Linked DNA regions of Homo sapiens. The protein of the gene in region 7 interacts with the protein of the main gene of each other region in a biochemical or structural test. Each region holds a gene or a part of one and is shown on either strand. Other genes may lie near its edges. The genes, in order: VIPR1, FNBP1, PTPN2, SNX9, FNBP1L, ACTR2 and WASL.

The links.
Region 1: the proteins of WASL (region 7) and VIPR1 form a complex in vitro, tested with the Homo sapiens proteins (one study listed by BioGRID).
Region 2: the proteins of WASL (region 7) and FNBP1 form a complex in vitro, tested with the Homo sapiens proteins (one study listed by BioGRID).
Region 3: of the proteins of WASL (region 7) and PTPN2, one has a biochemical effect on the other in vitro, tested with the Homo sapiens proteins (one study listed by IntAct).
Region 4: the proteins of WASL (region 7) and SNX9 form a complex in vitro, tested with the Homo sapiens proteins (one study listed by BioGRID).
Region 5: the proteins of WASL (region 7) and FNBP1L form a complex in vitro, tested with the Homo sapiens proteins (one study listed by BioGRID).
Region 6: the proteins of WASL (region 7) and ACTR2 interact in a test that uses a peptide from one of them, tested with the Homo sapiens proteins (one study listed by BioGRID).

What each region holds. Positions count from the first base shown.
Region 1 is NC_000003.12:42,516,143-42,519,642, reverse strand, and holds part of VIPR1 (vasoactive intestinal polypeptide receptor 1 isoform 1 precursor), read right to left. Parts: intron 421-3,500; coding exon 313-420; intron 1-312. UniProt on the Homo sapiens protein: G protein-coupled receptor activated by the neuropeptides vasoactive intestinal peptide (VIP) and pituitary adenylate cyclase-activating polypeptide (ADCYAP1/PACAP).
Region 2 is NC_000009.12:130,033,190-130,036,689, forward strand, and holds part of FNBP1 (formin-binding protein 1), read right to left. Parts: intron 1-3,500. UniProt on the Homo sapiens protein: May act as a link between RND2 signaling and regulation of the actin cytoskeleton. Required to coordinate membrane tubulation with reorganization of the actin cytoskeleton during the late stage of clathrin-mediated endocytosis.
Region 3 is NC_000018.10:12,828,738-12,832,237, forward strand, and holds part of PTPN2 (tyrosine-protein phosphatase non-receptor type 2), read right to left. Parts: intron 2,305-3,500; coding exon 2,206-2,304; intron 1-2,205. UniProt on the Homo sapiens protein: Non-receptor type tyrosine-specific phosphatase that dephosphorylates receptor protein tyrosine kinases including INSR, EGFR, CSF1R, PDGFR.
Region 4 is NC_000006.12:157,906,746-157,910,245, forward strand, and holds part of SNX9 (sorting nexin-9), read left to right. Parts: intron 1-2,919; coding exon 2,920-3,045; intron 3,046-3,162; coding exon 3,163-3,280; intron 3,281-3,500. UniProt on the Homo sapiens protein: Involved in endocytosis and intracellular vesicle trafficking, both during interphase and at the end of mitosis. Required for efficient progress through mitosis and cytokinesis. Required for normal formation of the cleavage furrow at the end of mitosis.
Region 5 is NC_000001.11:93,451,118-93,454,617, reverse strand, and holds part of FNBP1L (formin-binding protein 1-like), read right to left. Parts: intron 1-3,500. UniProt on the Homo sapiens protein: Required to coordinate membrane tubulation with reorganization of the actin cytoskeleton during endocytosis. May bind to lipids such as phosphatidylinositol 4,5-bisphosphate and phosphatidylserine and promote membrane invagination and the formation of tubules.
Region 6 is NC_000002.12:65,248,331-65,251,830, reverse strand, and holds part of ACTR2 (actin-related protein 2), read right to left. Parts: intron 805-3,500; coding exon 732-804; intron 1-731. UniProt on the Homo sapiens protein: ATP-binding component of the Arp2/3 complex, a multiprotein complex that mediates actin polymerization upon stimulation by nucleation-promoting factor (NPF).
Region 7 is NC_000007.14:123,742,504-123,746,003, forward strand, and holds part of WASL (actin nucleation-promoting factor WASL), read right to left. Parts: intron 1-3,500. UniProt on the Homo sapiens protein: Regulates actin polymerization by stimulating the actin-nucleating activity of the Arp2/3 complex. Involved in various processes, such as mitosis and cytokinesis, via its role in the regulation of actin polymerization.

The DNA.
Region 1 (3,500 bases), on a different chromosome or scaffold from region 7:
CTGAATCAAGACCAGCCCAAGACAACAGGACTATGGGAGTCATAATTTAATCAAGTACCTGTCAGTCAATCAGTTATCAATTGTTGAGCAAATATTTAGTGAGCCTTTCCCACATGCTTATCTTTATGTGAAGAGCTAATCAAATCCTGTGAGTTCTTTAAAGACCCAGCACCATTGCCTCCTCTGCCAGGGAGTCCCTCGGATTGCTCCAGCCTCTTTGACCACTTTCCTTTGCCTTTCCACTTCCTTGAGAGGTGAGTCCCCACTCCAGCCGGCCCCACTCACATCACCTCTTCAACCCAGGGGTCTTACCTTGAATGGAGGAGAAGAGCTTGAAGATGAGGGGACAGGCCAAGACAACTACCTGGCCCCGAGGGGTGGCTGGCCAGCAGGTGAGGTTGTCCCACATCTTGCTGCAGCCTATGGGGGTAAGGCAGAAGACACATGGGTGAGCACAGTGCAGGTGCCTCCAGCCCTGGGGCCTGAGGCCATAGGCACCCACTCTCTTCCTCCCTCTGCCAGGCTCCCACCTCAAGGAGCCTCCAGTCTGAGAGGGGAGGCACAGCCCTGCGGAGGTTGCACGGGGCTGTCCTGACAGGGAGGCAGGAAGGAGGCCTGACTACAGTTCCTTGGTCCTTAGTGAGGGATGGAGCGCCCCCTGGGGATGTTTCCAATGCCAGTGGTGGTTTTGACTGTTGCAGCAATAGGGGGGCCTCACTGGCATTTGATGGGCAGTCACCAGGGATGCCAGACAGACAACTCCTGCACAATGATGAATTGTCTCACATTCTGCATGGCTTCCAGATGAGCCACTGGGCATATGTATAGGTGAAAACCTTTCATAATGACCAGAGCCTAGACTCTTACACCATTTTATGTATAAACACACGCCATTTACTTACTTATTTTTTGAGATGGAGTCTCACTCTGTCACCCAGGCTAGAGTGCAGTGGTGCAACCTTGGCAACCTCTGCCTCCTGGGTTCAAGCAATTCTCCTGCCTCAGCCTCCCGAGTAGCTGGGACTATAGGCCCATGCCGCCACGCCCGGCTAATTTTTGTATTTTTAGTAGAGACAGGGTTTCACCATGTTGGCCAGGCTGATCTCGAACTCCTGACCTCAAGTGATCCTCCCACCTTGGCCTCCCAAAGTGCTGGGATTACAGGTATGAGCCACCGCGCCCGGCCAACACAAGCTGTTTATTGCACAAGTTTAACATACATGGAGTTTTCCAGGAATGCAGCCACTGAGAAAAGGGAGGGAAGATTGTATTTTGTTTTGTTCTGAACTTCACTAAGAGTTGTTCAATGTTTTGGAAAATCATGATACCCATAGCAGTGCTGCCTGTGATACTTGAGTCACCGATACAACTACCTGTGTCCATCAGTCTGCATTTGTAGGCCTCACATTCCCAGGATTTATATTTGTAGGTACAACCTTCAGACTACATCTAGTGTGGTTATGCTTGAATATGTACATGGTACTTTATTGTAAATTACTTTCCTTTTAATATTTATTTTACAGTATAGCTAGAACATTATTTTTTATAAAGTGGATGGGTACGTGTCCTGAATTTCATATTATGATAGTGAAGGAGGCATTAGAAAATGTTTTGAGACTCTGTCTCAAAAAAAAAAGAACTAGATGCATCCCAATATACTCATCACCCCATCATAGTCTTGCTCTGTCGCCCAGGCTGGAGTACAATGGCATGATCTCGGCTCACTGCAACCTCCACCTCCCAGGTTAAAGTGATTCTCCTGCCTCAGCCTTCTGAGTAGCTGGGATTACAGGAGCCCACCACCACACCCGGCTAATTTTTGTATTTTTAGTAGAGACGGGGTTTCGCCATGTTGGCCAGGCTGGTCTCGAACTCCTGACCCCAGGTGATTCACCTGCCTCTCAGCCTCCCAAAGTGCTGGGATTACAGGCATGAGCCACCGTGCCCAGCCCGCACCTAGTTCTTGAACAACACAGATTCCCCCAACGTGGTCGGATTGTGAATTGTGATGGAGGGGAATAGTTAGGGAACAAGTGCAGCGAAAACCCTGCATTGTGGCTGCATTCTCCGCCACAGCCTTGCAGAGCCTGGCCAGTGAAAGATGCACAGTGTGGTCTCTAGGGGTCTGCTTGAATAGGCACATGCAAATGCCATCATTTAGTCTGTTCAGAAGCTTCATGCCCGTGAGGGACTAGGACTGCTCTGGACCCATCCCATGCAGGAGGCTTAATTGTCTCTTTGCAATCCTGCCAGTCCCATAGATTTGCTCAGAAAACCCAACCCCTGAGCCAAAGTCAACGCCAGCTGGGCCAAGCCCAGCCCAGCCCAGCTCAGGTCCGAAGGTTCACAAGTTCCCAAGAAGGGGGTCTGGGAAGAGGAGGTGGAGGGATGTGTTTACTTGGGGAAGAGCCTCGGGACTGTGTGCATTGGAGTGGGCTGGCAGCAGCAAGGGGCACTTTCTGGGGCTGCAGCAGTCAGGCCACATCTATAGCTGAAGGCTGAGGAGGACACCTGGATCCCTAGGGCTTGGCCAGAGATTGCAGCCTTCCTTGGTCATGGACCCTGACCACTTTTCCCCCAACCTGTCTTGAGGGCTCTTGTGGCCTCATGTTGGCTGTCAGTCCCTCTTCCATTCTGGGCCAGCTTCTCTGAAAGCTGAGTAGGGGCACTTCAGGTCAGTCAAACCCTGCTGGGGGTTCAAGACCCTGTTAAGAATATCAGCAAACATTCATATAACATTTGCATGTGCCAGGCACTGTTCTAACCTCTTTGGATGAATAACTTATTTAATGCTTCCATTTCACAGATGAGGAAATGGAGGCACAGACTGATTAGAAAACCAGCTCAAGGTCATGTTGCTGGTAAGCGGTACAGTCTATTCCCACTCCTCTTGGTTGGAAGGCCTGTCATTTCTCTGGGAATTTTGCTGCTGCTGGACTTTGTTTACCCCTCTCTGACAGCACTGGGCACGCCCTGTTTTGTAGGCCGGCTATTGTGTCTGAGTCCCTGCCAGACTTTGGGCTCTCTAAACCTCCGGCTGCCAGCACAGGCCAGGGAGTGAATCCGGGGCTGGGTCTCTGGCCCTGAGCTCTGCTTCACTGCAGTGGGACAGAAGAGAGGAAACCAGGCCCTGCCCTTGGGAGGCCACACTTGGCCTCAAGGAATCTCAGCATAACCAAGGCTGGGCTGTGAACTGGTGCTGGGGTGTAGGGCAGCCAGCAGGGCAGGGGAGCAGGATGAGAGGCCAATATGAGGGACATGGTCAGGGAAGCAGGGGACGGGGTGACAGCCATGAATATACTTGGTACCTGGAATGGCCTGTTGTCCTGGGCTAGGCAACGGGAGTATTTCCTGTGTGCCTGCCCTAATGAGGCCCCATAGGTCCCATCACACATGTCACCAGGCCTACAGAAATACAGGGCCCAGGCTGGCTGTGTGTGCCCACAGGTGGGGCTGTGCCCTCAGCAGGAAAGCCCAACCCAGAGCTTGGGGTAAGGGAT
Region 2 (3,500 bases), on a different chromosome or scaffold from region 7:
CCTTTATGCCTTCTTGTCAAGAGAAAGGCAAGCATCATACCATACTTTATAGATTGGGAAAGCGAGGAACAGAGATGCAAGGACTTGCCCGATACTAATAAATATTAGATTAGGTAAGCAAGGCAACCCAGGCTGAGCCCTCCAGCACTGCCTCACTCAACTGGGAGCACCCACACCGTTTGTCCCCAGAGCCTGTCTGGTCTTTAAATGGATTTCAGGAACCCGTTCTCAATTTTGGCTGTGCAAATAGAAGTACAAGGGGAGGAGATTCCTTTACAGGTCCCAAGTTTTCTTCTGCTATAGATAATAGAGAAAGTGTTTCGTTTCTTGTTCCTGAAGACTCAAAACTTTAAAACCCTGAATGTCGGCCAGGCATGGTGGCTCACGCCTGTAATCCCAGCACTTTGGGAGGCCGAGGCCGGTGATCACTTGAGGTCAAAAGTTCAAGTCCAGCCTGGGCAACACAGGAAGACCCCCCCACCTCTACAAAAAAAACTTTTTTAAAAAAGTTAGCCAGGCCGGGCTGGGCACGGTGGCTCACGCCTGTAATCACAGAATTTTGGGAGGCCGAGGCGGGCGGATCACGAGGTCAGGAGAGTGAGACCAGCCTGGCTAACACAGTGACTAACATGGTAACCCCGCCTCTACTAAAAATACAAAAAAAAAAAAAAAAAAAATTAGCCAGTCATGGTGGCGGGTGCCTGTAGTCCCAGCTACTCGGGAGGCTGAGGCAGGAGAATGGCATGAACCTGGGAGGCAGAGCTTGCAGTGAGCAGAGATTGCGCCACCGCACTCCAGCCTGGGTGACAGAACAAGACTCTGTCTCAAAAAAAAAAAAAAAAGTTAGACAGGCCAGCTGCGGTGGCTCACACCTGTAATCCCAGCACTTTGGGAGGCCAAGGCAGGTAGATCACGAGGTCAGGAGATCGAGACCATCCTGGCTAACACTGTGAAACCCCGTCTCTACTAAAAATACAAAAAATTAGCCGGGCAAACGCCTGTACTCCCAGCTACTCGGGAGGTTGAAGCAGGAGGATCGCTTGAACTCGGGAGGCGGAGATTGCAGTGAGCTGAGATCACACCACTGCACTCCAGCCTGGGCGACAGAGCAAGACTCCATCTCAAAAAAAAAAAAAAAAACAAGTTGGTCAGGCGTGGTAGTGTACACCTGTGGTCCCAGCTAATCAGGAGGCTGAGGCGAAAGGCTCATTTGGGCCCAGGAGATTGAGGCTGCAGCGAGCCATGTTTGTGCCACTGCACTCCAGCCTGGTCAACAGAGTGAGACTCTGTATTCCTCCTTGTTCTTTCTCAATTTCCTTAAAAATAGTTTTCGCCAAGACATACTTCTGTTGGGCAAATTCAGAAACTTGATACTACTCCTACTAATTAATATCCACACAAATTTATTTAAATTAGAAAAGAGAAACAATAACTGGCTTTGAAAGGATTAGGAGATTACTAGACATCTATGAAGCATCTGCTTGAGTACGAGCTTCATTCATGACTGTTTCTGCTGGCTCTGCAGCATTTAGTGGTGTGAGTCATTGATTCTCAGTGATTCTCAATATGAATAACATCAACTGTTTTATAAAGCAAAATCTACTGCAGTGATGGGGAAATATGAGTGAGTGGTGGGGATAAAGGGAACTGTGCACTACTAACACAGAAGATCCAGTTTTTGGCCAAGTGGCTAATGCCTGTAATCCCAGCTCTTTGGGAGGCCAAGGTGGAAGGATCACTTGAGCCCAGGAGTTCAAGGCCAGCCTGGGCAGCATAGAAAGACCCCGTCTCTACAAAAAAAATACAAAAATTAGCAGAGTGTGGTGACATGTGCCTGTAATCCCAGCTACTTGGGAGGCTGAGGCAGGAGAATCACTTGAACCTAAGAGGCAGAGGTTGCAGTGAGTCGAGATCGTGCCACTGCACCCCAGCCTGGGCAACATGGAGAAGTGGCAAAAAATGACTCGCTGCCCAGCTGCAAGGACTGTGGCTAGCATGCAGCCTCCTTTAGGGTCCACCTCATCTTTTGAGTCGAGGGCATCTCTTCTTGTAGCACCCCCAGCCAATGACTAAGCAAGCTGGCAGCCAAGGCCATCCTCTTCTTGGGACGACCTCTGGCCAATGATAAAGGAAGGCAGAGATACAGAGGCCGAGCCATTTCTGCCAGAGGATTCTTGTGTCTGCTCTGGAGCTCCCCATTGGCCTGGTGGGGACTCTGTCAGGTCTGCATCGTGATCTGATGGCTTCCACTCTTTCCCCTTCACAGGTGTTACTCCCCAGTAAAACTGTACTAATGACTCCATCTAAGCCTCTTCTTCCAGGATATTGGCACAAATGGTAGTTACCTTGCTGGATTCTTGTAACAAATAAACAAGATGATGGATGTAAACACTTTGTCCAGCACCTGGGGCATAGTAGGCACTCAATAAATGGCAGTAATGATAACAATCATTCGAGACTTTAAGATAATAGAGAGGTCAGGCACGGTGGCTCATGCCTGTAATCCCAGCACTTTGGGAGGCCAAGGCGGGTGGATCACCTGAGGTCAGGAGTTTGAGACCAGCCTGGCCAACATGGTGAAATCCCATTTCTACTAAAAACACAAAATTAGCCAGGCGTGGTGGCACACGCCTGTAATCCCAGCTACTCGGGAGGCTGAGGCAGGAGAATCGCTTGAACCCGGGAGGTGGAGGTTGCAGTGAGCTGAGATCGTGCCATTGCACTCCAGCCTGGGCGACAAGAGCGAAACTCCATCTCAAAAAACAAACAAACAAAAACTTACATACCCCCAAATTACTCTCTAATATAATACACATATTTGGCCTCATCATTAAAAAAAAAAGTTTTTTTAACTAAACACATTACTAGGCTCAAGCTAGTATGAGTGTACAAGTAAAACAGGAAACAAATATTCCTTTATAAACACTAATTCCAGAAGACTTCACACCCACATTCTAAAATCTAATTAGATTAATTTCCCAGGGCATTCATGTATTCTTAGTAGCTTTCAATTTTTAAGTGTCAAAATAAAGCCTTATTTTTAAATGTGGGTGGTGTTGATGAAACAAGTATGAGTAATACTTGCAGGAAACATAATATTAGCTTTAGCTGCTTAGTGGGTGATACTTGAATAGTCCTTCAAAGAAGCACTTTCCATGTCTCACCAATGTAAAGCATGAGTTGTAATGTGTTCACATAGTAAGTATAGACACTTATAAAACTCTTTTATGTGCTTAAAGTACAGTTTTGCCTACCAAAATGGCAATTTACACAAATTTTCAGGATTCTGTCTAATGTACAAAGTGAGGGCAACAAAACTGATATCTAAATATCAACTGCAAAATCTCCAGGCCTCCCACGGTTTGTTTTCTTTTAATATCCACTAAACAGAAAAGACATGTGCAAAATTTGTTCTCATGGAGAAGTAAGGATGGCAAAACTAAGTTGATTTTGTTTCTCTTCTGAAGCAGTTCTGCCCTACCCACCATGGTTCAGGGAGT
Region 3 (3,500 bases), on a different chromosome or scaffold from region 7:
AATGACCAGTCCAGTTGCAATATATATCCTTATTTTTGCTGTGATCTTGAAATACTGCTGCCCATTAAAAGAAACCAAAACTCCTTAGAGAAATGGCTGGTTCCAGGTCTGGGCAGCAAGAGTTTGAGATGAGCCTGAGATGCAGTCATTACAGACAGCAAAAAAAATTTTTTTTTTTTGAGACAGGGTCTCGCTCTGTCCCCAGGCTGGAGTGCAGTGGCACGACCATAGCTAACTGTAGCCTTGACTTCCTGGCCTCAAGTGATCCTCCTGCCTCAGTACCCCAGGTAGCTGGGACTACAGGCATGCGCCACCACACCCAGCTAATTTTTGTATTTTTTGTAGAGACAGAGTTTCACCATGTTGCCCAGGCTGGTCTCAAACTCCTGGGCTCAAGCGATCCACCCAACTCAGCTCCCCAAAGTGCTGAGATTACAGGTGTGAGCCACTGCACCCAGCCAAGGAAACTATTAAAGGTTTGTTAAAAAGGACTCAGAGCTGGGTGAGGTGGCTCACGCCTGTAATCCCAGCACTTTGGGAGGCCGAGGTGGGCGTATCACTTGAGGTCAGGAACTTGAGACCAGCCTGGCCAACATGGTAAAACCATCTCTACAAAAACTAGCTGGGCATGGTGGTGGGTGCTTGTAATCCCAGTTGCTCGGGAGGCTGAGACGGGAGAATCTCTTGAACCCGGGAAGTGGAGGCTGCAGTGAGCTGAAATCATGCCACTGCACTCCAGCCTGGGCAACAGGCGAGACTCTGTCTCCAAAAAAAAAAAAAAAAAAAGAGGACTCAGGACCCAACCTAAAGACATTGCTGCTAGCCAATGACAGGGTAATTTGATCAAAAATAAGGAAAATAACTGCAAAGGAGTAAAATTAATCCAGTATGTCCAAACCCATAATAATTCAACCTCTCCTGCCACTCTCCACCAGAAAAACTCCTAATTGGTCATCTGTTGAGAACAGATGACCTCAATAGGGAATCAACTTTTTTTTGGAAAACTGCTTTTAAGAGAAGTAATGACAGAATTGGATTATCATCATTTGTAACCCATAATGAATTAAGAAGCTGAACACTGACCAATAATGGCTATTAATGAAATAAAAAGAACAATAATCAGACATTATGGGTCTCTTGATGAATAACACATTACCCACCACCTCTGAAGTAATCTTCCCCAAAATAATTAAACCTGACTCTTGTTAACCATCTAGGTTCAACCACCATAAACATGATTTCTAAATTCTGGTGGCAGTGTTATCTTATTAATACAGTAATTATACTCCAAAATGAGAGAAATAAAATTTGCAAATCATGTAGTCTACAATGGTGCTCAAACTGACAATGTCATAATCCTTGATTTTTTTTTTTTTCTTTTTTGAGATGGAGTCTCACTCTACCGCCCAGGCTGCAGTGCAGTGGGTTTTGAGATGGAGTCTCATTCTATCATCCAGGTTGAGGTGCAGTGGCACAATCTCGGCTCACTGCAACCTCCACCTCCTAGGTTCAAGCGGTTCTCCTGCCTCAGCCTCCCAAGTAGCTAGCATTACACCTGGCTAATTTTGTATTTTTAGTAGAGACGGGGTTTCACCATGTTGGCCAGGCTGGTCTCAAACTCCTGACCTCAAGTGATCTGCCTGCCTCGGCCTCCCAAAGTGCTGGGATTACAGGTTTGAGGCACCGTGCCTGGCCTAATCCTTAATTTTTAAATGATATTGAAGATCAGGAAAAACCCCTGTAAATGACTATGCTGATACTGCTGGAAATTCTGGCATGTCATTGCCACATCTAATTAGAAGTGGATTAGGAAATTTTCATCATCATTAAAAACCAGCAATTATGAAATGTAGAATAAAGTAAGAAATCTGAAGTAGAACAGTACAAGATCTTAAAGCTGGAAGAGGACTTATTGACAATAGGTCAATAAGGATTCCTAGGGATTCCAAAGATCTATATGTCACTGCTAGTCCATATTTATTCCATTGTATTTCTATCTTGGAGATGAAAGGTCTGCAATTGTTATAAAAATACTTAAGAAAGGAAAAGGATACATGAGTTTTTCCGGACAGAAACACTTTGACCGCTAGCCTTTAGCAATTAAAGGCCAAAACTAAGGAATGAATATTGGCCCCAAAATGAAAATCTTTATATGCTAATGATCACATACAGTATACTAAGTTGTAAATATTAAATATTACTCACCGATTCTTTCTCCACAATGCGGTTCAGCATGACAACTGCTTTGGTCTTCTGCTGCCAAACCATAAGCCAGAAATGGCAGCATGTGTTAGGAAGTGGACCCTGTGAAGAGAGAGGAGAGAGAGCAGATGAGGGAAGCAGACAGAAAGAGCAAGGCTCCAGGAAGGCCTTGTTAAGTCTGCTCCTGGGATGTTACAAGACAGACAGCGGACGGGCTTATAAGAAGTAAACCAAGACTTCCAATCTACCTGATTTCAAAAACAGGTCTGTGTTAGTTAGGATTTTTGGTTGTAAATGATCAAAACTGACTTTTATTTTCTCAGGCAAAAAAGGAATTGTGTAAGATATCAAGTGGCTTTCAGAGTTGAGGACTAGAGAGACAAACTTGGGTAGGAACCAAGGGTTAAGACACAAGCAAGGTCCTGCCCCAAAGAAAGTCAACCTGGGATGCTGCTCTTGATACCGTCACTACTATCTCCTTGCTTTTGCTGGCACTGCCATATGAAGGTGGCTATAGTATTCATGTACAATCTATAGGCAAATCAGAGACAAAATCACGAGTAGGAGTATCTGACTGATCATGTTCTAGCTGCAAAGAAGGTAGACCAAGGAAATTTCTGTCCTCTTCATCTTCTACAGCCAAGAGGATGTGCCTCCCACACATCATAGAAAATCCATGAGAAAAAAGTCTGTACCATCACTGGCCAGCCAACCAACTCAAGTCAACTACAAAAAGATTTCTAGAAAAAGTAGGAATCATTAAAGTACCTGAACCACAATGAAACTGTTAATCTACAAATGCACAGTATGTACGGCCTCAATGGAAGAGTATTGGGCAGAGTTAAAAAGGGGCAACAGTCCATGTTACAACAATGCCATGGGGATAAAAGCAAAATATTTCATGTATTTCCAATTGCTTTCACATTTTAATGATAGCATAGGGCAAAAGGAAGATCTAATAAGAGATGAAAAGCCTATGTACAAATTTTAACGAGTTTTAAATGAGAAGGTTAAAATGAGATGTAGTTTTGCTACACCTAAAATAACTATGAACATGCATTCAACTCACATGGAATGTAGCAGAGTGGTATGAGTTAGGGGCAGAGTCAGGAGTGGGGGCTAGGGCTGCCCAGAGCTTCAGACCCACATACAACAAGGGGGTTAAAGTGGTTCTAGACTAAAAGCATTTTTTATTTTTTGAGATGGTGTCTCTGTCACCCGGGCTAGAGTGCAGTGTCACGATCTCAGCTCACTGCAACCTCCACTTCCCAGGTTCAAGAGATTCTCCTGCCTAAGCC
Region 4 (3,500 bases), on a different chromosome or scaffold from region 7:
AATGTGACACAAGCCCTTCGGTTTCATTCCACATTTTGATTGGTGGTAGATTTTCTGTCTAGGTGATATTTAGTTGTAGATTCCCAAATGAAATTCTGGAAAAGAGAACTGTAGCTATCTTCTGATCCTATTGACTTAACCCTGTAACAATTAGATTGGGAACCTGAAGCCTTGAGTGTTCTCATCCTGGACTCAATCGAGGATGAGGAAACATCTGGTCTTATTCTGTAGTCTTTGGAAACTTGATAAAATTGCAGGAATAGTATTAGATTCTCTAATTACTTGTGCCTGCATGTTTGAAAAACTCCAAATCCTGGAAGCCTCCAAGCTGAAGAGCTGTAACCAAGAGCCCTTTTTATGCTTTTTCCCTCAAAGCAAATTTGGGATAATTAACTTCTGAGTAGTTATATTAAAGATTTTTTTTTCCTGTTTTCTCTGGACTTAATAAAAATTGAACATGTACCATTATTCTTTTCATGACATTTAAAACTCCTCAAAATCAAGAGCGCACAGCTCTGCCTCAGTTTTGTTTTTTTGTTTGTTTGTTTGTTTTTAAGACAGAGTCTCACTCTGTCACCCAGGCTGGAGTGCAGTGGTGTGATCTTGGCTCACTGCAACCTCTGCCTCCCGGGTTCAAGCAATTCTCCTGCCTCAGCCTCCCGAGTAGCTGGGATTACAGGCATGCACCACCACGCCTAGCTAATTTTTTTTGTATTTTATAGTAGAGACGGGGTTTCACCATATTGGCCAGGCTGGTCTTGAACTCCTGACCTTGTGATCCGCCCACATTGGCCTCCCAAAGTGCTGGGATTACAGGTATGAGCCACTGCGCCCGGCCTGCCTCACATTCTTAAAGGGGACTTTGTCCCAGGTTTGCAGTGGTGGTACAGAGCTAAGGGTTCCAGCCTTTCATTGACCGGCAAGTTTTAAGTAGAACTGCACCCATGCACCCAGTAGGCAGGTCTGCCTGTGTGGGCGTCTATACATGGAAGAAGCTGAGGAAAGCCACCGCGTCTTCAGGAGGCCCAGAGAAAGCAGAGACTAACTCTTTGCTCTAAAAGTGCAGTAACCTTGCCCACTCATGAAACAGAGCCCCGTGAAATTGGGCCTTAGCCAAGCACAGTTGCTGCTCTCGGCCCACTCACTGAGGGAGGTCCCGAAAGTCATCTCCTCTGCAGCTTTCAGCTAGTTTCTTGGATCTGGGCTCTCCCTGAGGGGGTTATAGTAATTGTTCTCAGAGATTTTAGTCTCTTTTTAAACTACTCTTATCCTTGGAGTAGGTCACCTTCCTGACCTAACAGCCTCTGAACTTTAATATCCCAATCCGCTTTTCCCATCTTCCTCTTAAAAAAAAAAATTAGGACTGGGTATACCTTTTTTTCCTTTTTATGTCTGTCTGGCCTTGCCTCTCTGAGGTCTCAGCCGAAACAAATCTCTCTTCCTTCAGCGCAATCTGTGTGATTTTTCTCATTTTCTTTTTACTTTCTTATGGTACTTTTTCAAGTCTGCAAGAATAAAACCTGTTCCATAAATTATTTCATTCTCCTTGAATCTCTGAATGAATCTCTGAGTGAATCTGCTTCCTGAATAGTGGTCCTTTTACAGTCCATGTGTTTGTTTTTTCATTCTCTTCTTGGATTATAACTCAATTATTTTTCATTTTCAAGCCAAGAAGATAGATAACATTCTCAGTATAATAAGGACTTCTATTGCTCTGAAATGTGTTTTGATAAGAGCTACTGTCCTGCAGTCTGAACCTCTAGAATCTGTCATTGTGATCAAAGTTTATGAAATGAATGAGGCAGAACCAACTTGAGACTATTGGTGACTCAGGTAGTGATTCCAGAAGCCTGTACATGAGCTCCAGCATCCAGGTTCCTCTGCAGCTGCCCCCATGGCCTTGGATGCTGTTTTAAATAAGATGAAAAAACCAGGTTTGGGACAGCAGACCTATTGTCACCTAGCAGTGCCTAGAAGAAATGATCCTCAGGCTCAAAACTTACACGAGGTCTCTACACCCCCACATAGAATTTAGCTGGTTTCCCTTCCTCACCTCCCACCACAACTAAAACCCCAGTGAGCTAGTGTAAGCCTCGCCTGAATTTGTGAACTTTTGCCCTAGTCACAGATAGAAGAGAAGGCCAGTGAGAAAAGAATGGAGGCCTACCCTCTTCAGGCAAGCCTTGCCCAGGTGGACGTGATACCCGGGGGTTGGAAGTGAGCCAGCCCACTGTGCTTAGGCACATAGCAGTCCACGGAAGAAAACAGCTAGCCTGGTTCTTGCTTTTAAGATGTAGTACCTCCCCCTCCCCCCACCTTGCCACTAGTAGTAAAACAATGACTATCAGGCTCTGGCCAATCTGATTAATCGTTTCTATGAGCCAGAACAATGCTACTCAAAGTATGGTCCACAGACCACTTGCCCATCTGAAAACTGCTTGTTCCTGATCCACCGTGAGATAGGTACAGTACATGAGAATATTTTGAAAACTTGAGGACAATTTGGTATTGTTGAAAAATCAAAATGTGTAATGTTATATTTCACCAAACTATTAGTCTGTGATAGATTCGAAATTTTTAAAAACTAGTCCTTCATCACGTGTAGCTTGAGACAGCTAGACTAGAAAGAAACATTGTCTTGTAACCAGCACTGTCCTTGGGAGAGGGAAGCTGGTGTCTCCTCTCCATGGGCTGAGCTACTCACGTGGGAGCAGAAGGGTTTCCCACAGGTGTGTTCTTTAAACATAATATCTAACAGGAACAGAAACCATTGAACCATTTATGTACCTTTCAAAGAGGAACAAGAATGACCCTCCAAAGGACTTCTCATTCTGAAAAGAATTACTTGCTGATTCACATCAATTGTATTTATTATTTTTCCATGTAACAAAATTACTTCTTTCTGGAACATTGGCATAGGTTGGAGATTATGGCCCAATGTGGGTTTATCCTACCTCTACTTTTGACTGTGTGGTAGCAGATCCCAGGAAAGGCTCCAAAATGTATGGTCTAAAGAGCTACATCGAATATCAGCTAACACCTACTGTAAGTATCCACGTTATCAAAAGCAGAATCATGTTTGGATCACTGATTGCAGCTTGCTTTTTTCTTCATTTTCTAGAGTTGGCATTGGTAACCTTTTCTCTTTCCCTTATTTTGTAGAACACTAATCGATCTGTAAACCACAGGTATAAGCACTTTGACTGGTTATATGAGCGTCTCCTGGTTAAGTTTGGGTCAGCCATTCCAATCCCTTCTCTTCCAGACAAACAAGTCACAGGTGAGTGTGTGTAATGCTAAACCCAGGATGACAAATAGAAAGACTCCAGTCAGATTATCTTCCTGTAAGTCAGTGATGGCATTTTCCATCCTGTAGAGCAGCAGGATGCAGGAGTTGGAAACAGTAATTAAATACAGCTATGAAGAGAGAACCATTGCATGTTGTACATCTATCTGGAAGTTGCCTAAACGTCTCACAAGAACGTTTAATGTGCAAATCA
Region 5 (3,500 bases), on a different chromosome or scaffold from region 7:
TGTAGTAATAATATATATTTAAAAATAAAACTAATTTCAAATTAGTAACATATTATTAAAGGAAATAACATCCTTCAAATATTCTTGCAGCGGCGCTAAAATAAATACACTTTCATCTTCTAAAACCCAGAGGTATTCCCCTCCTGCCACCAAAGTATTCAGAAGCAAGAGGTAATCCCTTCTACCAATAAACTAAGATTTTCTTCTGTGAATTTTTAAATGGTCTGAAAAGTGGTTTGATTATATACAAATGTGTAACTACACACACACACACACACACAGACACACCCATACACACACACAAGAGGTTCATGAATCAAGCAATCAGCCAGACCAACCTCTTTGCCTGCCTGGTTCCAGTCTACCCTTCATCACTACTTTCAGACATTGTGCACTCAAATTCAAGTCAAACGCAACACTAGACTCAGGTCAGTCCAACAAACATTTATTAAAGACCCTACTAATGTCAGGCTAATCCAGGCAGGATACAGCAATGAATCAGACAATGAATAAGCAATGAGTAAGACACAATATCTGCCCTCTAGGAACCTGTCAGGAACCCCCACCTGCATAACCCTTCTTATTCCAAAACCTAGGTCAAATGACAGTCTTCCTAAAGATTTTCCTGTGATACCTAGAATGAAAAGTCACTTTTCATAGCCCTAAAGTCCATCTATTACTTTCTAGTTGTTTTAGGGTTGCTTTGAGGCTCATGCTGATATCTAATTGATTCTTTTAGTATGCCCCACAAAGCCTAGCTTAGTGCTGAAGCCATAATAGGCATGAAATAAACATCTGTTGAATGAACAAGCATCAGTCCTGTTTACGTGTTTCAGGTGTATTAGATAGACATGGCCTGAACTGAAATATGGAACGGCTTTCACATTCTATAGAACAAAACCTTTACATAACCTTTCCTACCAGTTTTTAATATTCTATAGATATATTCCCCAAGACAGATTTTTTTTTGCTATTGAAGTGAAAATGTTTAAAGATTGAAGATTATTAAATAAGACAGCACTTGTTGATATACACAGAAGGTATTTGACATTTATAAGCCATTACTATTTCTCTTACTATTTCCTCTCTACAAACTAGCTGACAGAGGAAAAAGTTGGTAGAATAGGTTTTTTTAAAGTTTCCAGCCAAAATCATATTTTATAGGTTTATAGGGTGGGGGAAGGAGAGAGAGCAAATATTTTAAGAAAAAGGCAAAGAAAGCAAGCAAATGGAAGTAAATGGAGTATGAGTGGCTATGCAAAGGAGATACTGGTTAGAGGCAGCTCTCTAGCTTCCAACTTATTATAGTCATTATGGAATGGTGACATAAACAGATATCTTGATACCTCTCACTCATCCTCCTTAACTAATAGCAATAACGTCTGTAATACAATGTTGAACACAACAATTTCTACCAACAAAAGGGAATGTAAGATATTTAAGTATTTATACCATGACAATTTCCCTAAGATTTGAATACACAAGAAATAACTATAATAACCGTAATATAAGGTGGTAGTCCCATAAGACAATATCCAGAATGGGTAGTCTGGAGGCATGGGGTTGATAGGAATTGGTCAACAGAGGGCATTCTGGGCAGTGGTATCAATGTAGGGAAGTATTTTGGAGTTTACAGTAAAGTTATATCATCTCAAAGCAACTCTACCTTTTGTCAGGGCAGGGCCAATATCATAAGCCTTCATAAATCTCACCAAACATAACAGTGCTTCCCAAATAATAGACACAAAATTATTGTATTTTTAAAACAAAACTGAATTCCTACAGCAGTTTCACGGCCTTTCATTTACTTTTGGAGAAGCAATTCAGTTTACATTAATAATGAATTTTCTTTGTCAACCTCCTCTAGACAAGCACCCTCCAAAAAATGTGAAGTAAAATTAAAGTCAATATTATAGACAGTCCCAGCTTCTTGAGAGCTTAAGGAAGGACGATTGTGGAGCACAGAGTTCAAGACTGGCCTGAGAATATAGCAAGACCCCATCTCTAAAAATATACATATATATTACAGATATGGTCTAACCAGTAGACTATGAGACCCAATTCCTTTGTTACAGATAAATCTATTAATGTGGCCTAAGATTTCACCAATTATTTAGGCAGTCACATTACCAAGCTATCAATCAAGTAAATTCACCAGAAATTACCTGTAGGTCTTTTCTTCCCCATCCTTTTACCATTTTACTTGACAAAAATGTTTAACCCAAGTAGTAAAACTTAACTTTATAATTTTGGTTTCAGCTTTAGACTTTCTTGAGCTGTTATCCAGATCACCTAACCTATCACCATCTACAAAGGCCTTCAGAACCCTAAAGATACACTTGCTAATTAGTAATCAATACTCTGGGTAATGCAATCAACTATTAATGCAATTGGGCAAAACATGCATGATCACCTACAAGCATTGTCTTGGTCAGTGAAAACAAAGATGAATCCAGCCTTTCTACACTCAAGGACAATCTAGTCACTTACAATGTAAATTTAAGTGCTATATAAAGTGTTATGAAGCCAAGATAATAAAGTATTAAAAGGTTAACACTGAGGATAATACATAAATTATCCACCTAATCTATCACTCAACCCACATTTTTCAGTTTCTTCCAAAAAGATATAAGCTTTGTCAAATGCATTTAGTTAATAATATGATGAAGACCGGGCACGGTGGCTCACGCCTGTAAACCCAGCACTTTGAGAGGCCGAGGCGGGCGGATCACAATGTCAGGAGTTCAAGACCAGCCTGGCCAACGTGGTGAAAACCTGTTTCTACTAAAAATACAAAAATTAGTCGGGCATGGTGGTGTGCACCTGAAATCCCAGCTACTCGGGGGGCTGAGGTGGGAGAATGGCTTGAACCAGGGAGGCTGAGGTTGCAGTGACCCGAGATCGCACCACTGCACTCCAGGCTAGGCAACAGAAGAGACTCCATCTCAAAAATAATAATAATATAAATAATATGATGAAAATAACAATGGCTTTTAAATTACACATTCTTAAACTAAGGGCCAAAGATTATATCGACCAAGAAATTAAGGCATAAAAAAGATTTATATGCACTTATAAATTAAATCAGATATTTGAATCCATCTTCTAACTACCAGACTTGTCCAGCATTTTCCTTGGGTAGCAAATTTTTCAGTAAATCATATGAATGTGAGGTGCTCAGCCATATATTTTTTTCATATTTATACACACATTCACAACCCATACACAGATTTTTTCTGTCGAACTTTAACTAGGTCCTCAAAAACTAAAAACCTATTTCTTAATAAGTAAAACTTATTTACTAAACATAGGTCTTTTCCAATCTCTAATGTCCCTATCTGTTAAAAAAAAGCTAGTAATTTCAAAATCTGTGCTTTGTGAAATTATTAATTCATATTTGGCTATCTGATCCATCCATTCTTGCTATGTAATAAAGAAATGAACACAATAAGCAATGCCTAAGATGTTACCACGCATCCTGAAGAAGTGAAGACAGTATC
Region 6 (3,500 bases), on a different chromosome or scaffold from region 7:
ACCCACCTCAAAAGTTAGAAATGCACTCCCAAATGTTTACCTTCTCCTTTTTAATCTACTATATATTTGACAGGCATGATTTTATGCTACCTTTTTGAATCTCTGCGTATTTTTTTTAACTCAAGCCAATTCTGGGGACAAATTCCATGCATAAAAAATTAAAATAGCTATGCCAGGCACGGTGACTCATGCCTGTAATCCCAGCACTTCAGGAGGCTGAGGCGGGCGGACTACCTGAGGTCAGGAGTTTGAGACCAGCCTGACCAATATGGAGAAACCCCATCTCTACTAAAAATACAAAATTAGCCAGGTGTGGTGGCACATGCCTGTAATCCCAAATACTTGGGAGGCTGAGGCAGGAAAATCACTTGAACCCAGGAGGTGGAGGTTGTGGTAAGCCAAGATTGCACTATTGCACTCCGGCCTGGGCAACAAAAGCGAAAATCTGTCTCAAAAAAAATTTAAATAGCTTAAAAGAGAGAATATCCTATTTTTTAAAAAATAAGTCTTTAAGCCTTTTTTTTTTACCTTAAATACATATTTAGCAAATAAAAATGTATATAAAATCTTATTTCACAAATTTTAAAAACTGAAAATATTTCAAAGTGTGGTATATAAATAATGTAGTTTTCTGGGGCTTATAACTTATTGAGAAACCAAATTCTCTGACATAAAACATACATAATAAATGTTTGATGAAGTGTTTTTTCTAACAGTTAAGCTTAACCTACCTTGAGCGTACAAAGTCAGAACTGCCTGGATGGCTACATATACACCGGAAAACTGGTAAGTTTCAAACATTACCTGTAAATGCAGACAGAAAGAAAAAAACTGGTATTTAGAAAATTACATAATAAATAAATGTTTTCCTCATGGTCACAGAGTGAATTAATTGCCCAAAATAGAATCAAATGGACCTGAAATAGTCTTCCATTTTCATCAGCTCCTCTTATTTCTTATTGAAGTCCTGCTGCCACAGAGCTCCAAATCTGAAGACAGATTTCTAAGTCCCCAAGCATTTCATAAGCGTGACAAAGCAAAGATTTCTTAGTGTATTAGTTAATGACTAATTAGTGTGAAAGAAAGCTCTCTGTATTGAACAAGACTTTCTTAATTGATATCCCTTAAGGGAAATTCTTTTTTTTTTTTTTTTTTTTTGAGATGAAGTCTCACTCTGTTGCCCAAGCTGGAGTGCAGTGGCGCAATCTTGGCTCACTGCAACCTCCACCTCCAGGGTTCAACTGATTCTCCTGCCTCAGCCTCCTGAGTAGCTGGGACTACAGGCATGCACCACCATGCCTGGCTAATTTTTGTATTTTTAGTACAGACAGGGTTTCACTATGTTGGCCAGGCTAGTCTCGAACTCCTGACCTCATGATCCACCCACCTCGGCCTCCCAAAGTGCTGGGATTACAGGTGTCAGCCACCACATCCAGCCAGGGAAATATCTTTTTTTTTTCTTTTTTTGAGACGGAGTCTTGCTCTGTCGCCCAGGCTGGAGTGCAGTGGTGCCATCTCAGCTCACTGCAACCTCCACCTCCCTGGTTCACGCCATTCTCCTGCCTCAGCCTCCCGAGTAGCTGGGACTACAGGCGTACACCACCACACCCGGCTAATTTTTAGTATTTTTAGTAGAGACAGGGTTTCACCGTGTTAGCCAGGATGGTCTCCATCTCCTGACCTCATGATCCGCCTGCCTCGGCCTCCCAAAGTGCTGGGATTACAGGCGTGAGCCACCGCACCCGGCCGGGAAATATCTTTTAATTCGAAGACAAAATATAGAAATTGCTTTACAGAGCCTCGTACCCCCTCCCTCAATCTGGGCCAAGAGTGTAGCTCTGTCTACCCTGAGCAGCTTAAAAATTAAAAGAAAGAAAGAAAGAAAAAATAAAAAACCCAGTAAAATGCCACGGCAAAGACAAAAATCAATGGTTAATTCCTGATTGCTGGAAGATACAGAAATGGCTTAGCTGCTGAGCCCAGTCCCTACTTGAATCAAGACTGTAATTACAACCTCCAAATGAACTACCCTGGAAGGAGGAGTTCTTTCCTTTTTGCCCTCACTGGTCACACACATGTTCATTCTCTGTAGCCCAGGTCAGCTGGGAACATCCTGCATGATTTTTTTTTTGGTGATCTTGACTGAGCACCCCTTGACTGGTAGGGTTGCCTATCACTCTGAATATCTAAATATTTAGAAATTTTACAACTGACCACAATGAAAATTACACAGAATTTAAATTCTACAACTCTGAAACACATACTCATCAATTAAGCAATTAGATAGTCTGAATAGTATTTTATTCCATCATCCTTTATTCCACCTCCACAGGGATGAAAATGGAAGAATGATCATATATATGCACATACCAATGTGAAAGCATGTTAATGAGATTAAGGTAGGACACTATCAGTCATAGACATATTTGTAGTCATAAACAAATAAGAATATTAAAATATAAGCCATAAGAAATCATATGGATTCTTTAAAACCATGATCTTAGATTTTCAAAACACTTAATACAAAAACTGAGTTTTAATACAGGCTTTAAAAATACTAACAACATTTTCTTCTAAACCCTTTCAAAAATTTCCATCAACATTTAAACATATTCGTAAACAAAATATGTACATTAAACAGTAACTGGAAAGCTACAGAAGTTATTAAATTTCTACTTCATATATACAAAAATAAAAGAACCTTGAAAAATTACTTATTTAAACTATGAGGATCATAGCTCTCTTGCTCTCTCTTTCCTCTGTAACTGCTTATTTCATTATTTCATTAACTTTTTTTTTCTTTTTCTTTTTTCTTTTTGAGACAGAGTCTCGCTCTGTCGCTCAGGTTGGAGTGCAGTGGGGTGATCTCAGCTCACTGCAACCTCCACCTCCTGGGTTCAAGCAATTCTCCTGCCTCAGCCTCCTGCGTAGCTGGGATTACAGGCGTGCACCACTATGCCCAGCTAATTTTGTGTTTTTAGTAGAGACGGAGTTTTGCCATGTTGGCCAGGCTGGTCTCAAATTCCTAGTCTCAAGTGATCCACCCGCCTTGGCCTCCCAAAGTGCTGGGAGCCACCTAGCCCGGCCTCAATAACGTTTTCAATCTCCTTCTGCTGGCTCCTCCTATCTCTCTGGTCCTTGGCCTTTTCACCACTGTCTACCCTCTTCTTTGTTGAACCGTATCATTTATAGCCCTACCTTCAAAACAGACCTATAATCTGGTAATTTCTCACTATCTCTACTACTACTACTTCAATCCTAACCATCATTATCTTTTGCTTAAATGACTGAAAAAGTCTCCAACTCTTCTATCTTTGCCTCCTTGTGGGATACTCACAACACAAGAGAAATCTAAATCTGAGCATCTCCTTTTCCTGTAACAGCCCCATATTTCACCCACAGTAAAAGCCCAATTCCCTTTTTTTCTTTTTGAGACTGAGTCTCACCCTGTCGCCCAGGCTGGAATGCAGTGGTGTAATCTCGGCTCACTGCAGCATCTG
Region 7 (3,500 bases):
GATTTTTTTAATATTGGAAAATAAGCAGTAACATGTAACACCTATCATATCACTAATACAATTTCATCCAGAATTAGGATTCTAGATGGAATTGGTTAACAAAAGAGAAATTCTTAAAAATAATTCCATCTTAACCAAAAAAGCAGTTTCTAATAACCCAAAAATACATTATAATTACAAATAATAATTCTAAGTTAGCTAAGAGTTGGTAATTCTACTACTAATGCTTTTTTATTCTGTTCACTCTGCTGTTTTAAAAGTGAAATGCCTATTAAATTACAATGCTTAGAAAAAGGTGAATTAAAAATGGGAATTTTCAATGAAATAATTCAGGATTATCTACCTTCTGCTTAGATATATGCTATATTAGTCTCGGCTGTGCAAAACACATATATGCTAGAGTTAACATTAGGCCTGTTCTTTCCCTGCTAGAGTCCCTGGAATCTAGAATAGTTAAACTGATTAAGCATTAAAGCTGGAAAGACTGTGGAGTTATCTTGTCTGACCCTTCATTTTCAAATTAGAAAAGTGAAGTTCAGGAAGGGAGAAATGGCCAGGCACAGTGGCTCACACCTGTAATCCCAGCACTTTGGGAGGTTGAAGCGGACAGATCACCTGAGGTCAGGAGTTCGAGACCAGCCTGGCCAGCATGGTGAAACCCTGTCTGTACTAAAAATACAAAAATTAGCCAGGGGTAGTGGCACACGCCTGTAGTTCCAGCTACTTGGGAGGCTGAGGGAGGAGAATAACTTGAACCTGGGAGGCCGAGGTTGCAGTGAGCCGAGATCGTGCCACTGCACTCCCGCCTTGGCGACAAAGCAAGACTCTGTCTCAAAAAAAAAAAAAAAAAAAATTCCTGTTCATATTCACAATGTATGGTAGCAGAGCATGGACTAAAATTCAGGAACTCCTAACTTTTTCATCAGGACCCCTTTCTTCCTCTTCAATTAGCAGCCAGGGAGGCTCAGGCTGCCCAGACACTCCCCAAAGAGATACATTCAAGCTGCTCCTTAACTTTTAATTTACACACCTATAATTAACTGACTTTAAAATTGTTAATTTACCTAAGTCAAAACAAATACAATATAGAGCTGAAAATTTTACTCTAAATCCTCCCTGCCAGTAACAGGAAATCTAAACTGAGCACTGAATAGTATTCATAACAACTTTCTTTCATATGCTCCTCCAAACTCCCAGAATACTTTGTGTCATGGACTCTAAGTATTTTCCATAATGATTGAATTACTCTTTGAAATCCTTGACTAAGCCCATTTTACAAATCTAGACATGAAGGCTGAGACTAGTTAAGAAATGTCCCTGTATTATATATATAGAGCTAAGAATAACCAGAAGTAAAATTCATAACCCAACCCTGTTGGACTTTTCTGAATCTCTTCTTGTGCTTACAGCTACGCTGCGTCACATACATTTTTGTGCTCATCTTTTTCCTCTATACTAGACAAAGGTATCTTCTCATCTTTGTATATTCCAAATCCAGTGAATTTTAACTTTTATCTTTCCTTACTACTCAAGGTGAAATACATTCCCGGTCTAAACTTTCCACCAACAGTGCCTTACTCAGGCCATCATCAATACAATGATCCCTCTAAGCATATCCTTCCCTGTATGCCTATGTAAGAATCCCTACCCAACAGGTCTGATTTAGAACACAAACAAACTACTGTTAGACAACTGTTACCACCTATATTAGTTCAGCAGCACAACTAAACCATTTCGGTCGCTTAATAAATGAAGACTAAAGTCCAGATACCATGTGCATTAGAAACTGAAGGGCTTAACAACCTAATCAAGCAATAAGAAACGCAGAATGAGCTCCTAAAAAATAAACGAGTAATTATAATTATTCAATCAATCAATAAGTATTCACTGATCTGGGAGCCAGAAGTTACAAAAATTATAGAAGACTACCTAGGCATAAAGTCTATCTCCAAGAATTATATATAGTGAGGAAACAAAAAACTAAAGAAAATAAGCAAGTTAAAACAAGTGCTGAGGAGTTAAAGGAAATAAAGATTAAGGTTGATTAATAAAAATGGCTTAAGTATCACTAAATCTTGAAAAAACAAACCAGGTGAGTATGGCAGGGAAAGATAATGCTCAATAACATTATCAGCCCCAATCCATATAAACCAGATATGGCTGTAGAGACGTAGTTTAATGTTTTATTTTTTCCTATTCCTTAGTTTCTCACTTATTCAGGACTATATATGTTGAACTTCACTTAGCAAAACTGCACATACTCTTTATATAAAATTAACTGAATCACACTACATGAAAGGCAACAGATCTAACTACAAAATAAGACCTAGTAATCTTGTTTATAACCTTCTCATTCTCCCTTCATAATACTACCAGCTAATGAATGGCATCAGAACTATTTATGTAAAAGTACATATCATGTATTTATGTATTACAATGAAATCTCAATTTCCACAAAATGAATTTTTAGAAACTGTGGTAAAACAAAAGATTTACTGATGATCTGCCTCCTCCATGAAGCCAATCACCAATCCAGAGTCTCATTAACATTTAGGCATATTTGCAGCGAATGAGAATAAAAATATGTTTCTGTGTACTTTTTCTGCTGGTGGTTATAATGCCTGCCTTTATTGAAACTCCCTTCCCTCACCTTCTATATATAACTGGGACTAATTTCTGCTGGAGACTTTAATTGTTCTTGAATTCCCAAAGTACTCTCTTAATTCAGGCCCTCATCATATTTCACCTGCAATACTATAAATCAACTATCTGATTTCCCTTGTCTTTCCCTCACAATCCTCAATCCACCTTCTATACTGCCTCCACCTTTCCCCTGAAAATTTTCTAAGTCAAATATGATCTTGTGAGTCCCCATTAAATAGTGCAATACTTCCCCAACTGTATCTCCTTCTTAGTTGTGAAATGTACACTGGTATCTTCAGCGGTGAGAGAAATGCTGTACTAAAAGAATTTGGTTTAACTTAATTTAGCTTCAATTTGCAAAATATAGACCAAAAATTGAAGAAAAATCTATTAAGATTTCCAATGTGCTCAAGGATTATCCTATCAGACAACGTGGACTTTAGCAGTGGTTTTCAAACTGTGATATACTTTAGAATTTTCTGTCAAGCTTGCTAAAAATAGACATGTCCAAGCTTCACCTCAGATCCAGTGATTCTGAGTAATATCTAGGAATTGGGCCTAGGCATATGCATTTCTCATAATCTCCACAATGATTCCAATTCATACCTAAATCTGAGAGCCCAAGCAGAAGCCCTCCTTGCTCCCTAACAAACCTAACAAACTTATTAGTAGGTCTCCTAACTTTTCAAGCTGTTTCATACCTCTCATCAGCCTAGGGAGTACCTGTTTAAATATAAATAATCAGTTATCCATTTTAAAAAGCTTTTAATCATCCTCTCTCCCACCATTCTCTCCTTTAATCCCCTAAACCTTTATAAAAATAGTTTCCATATATTTATACACAGTCTTAATCCACA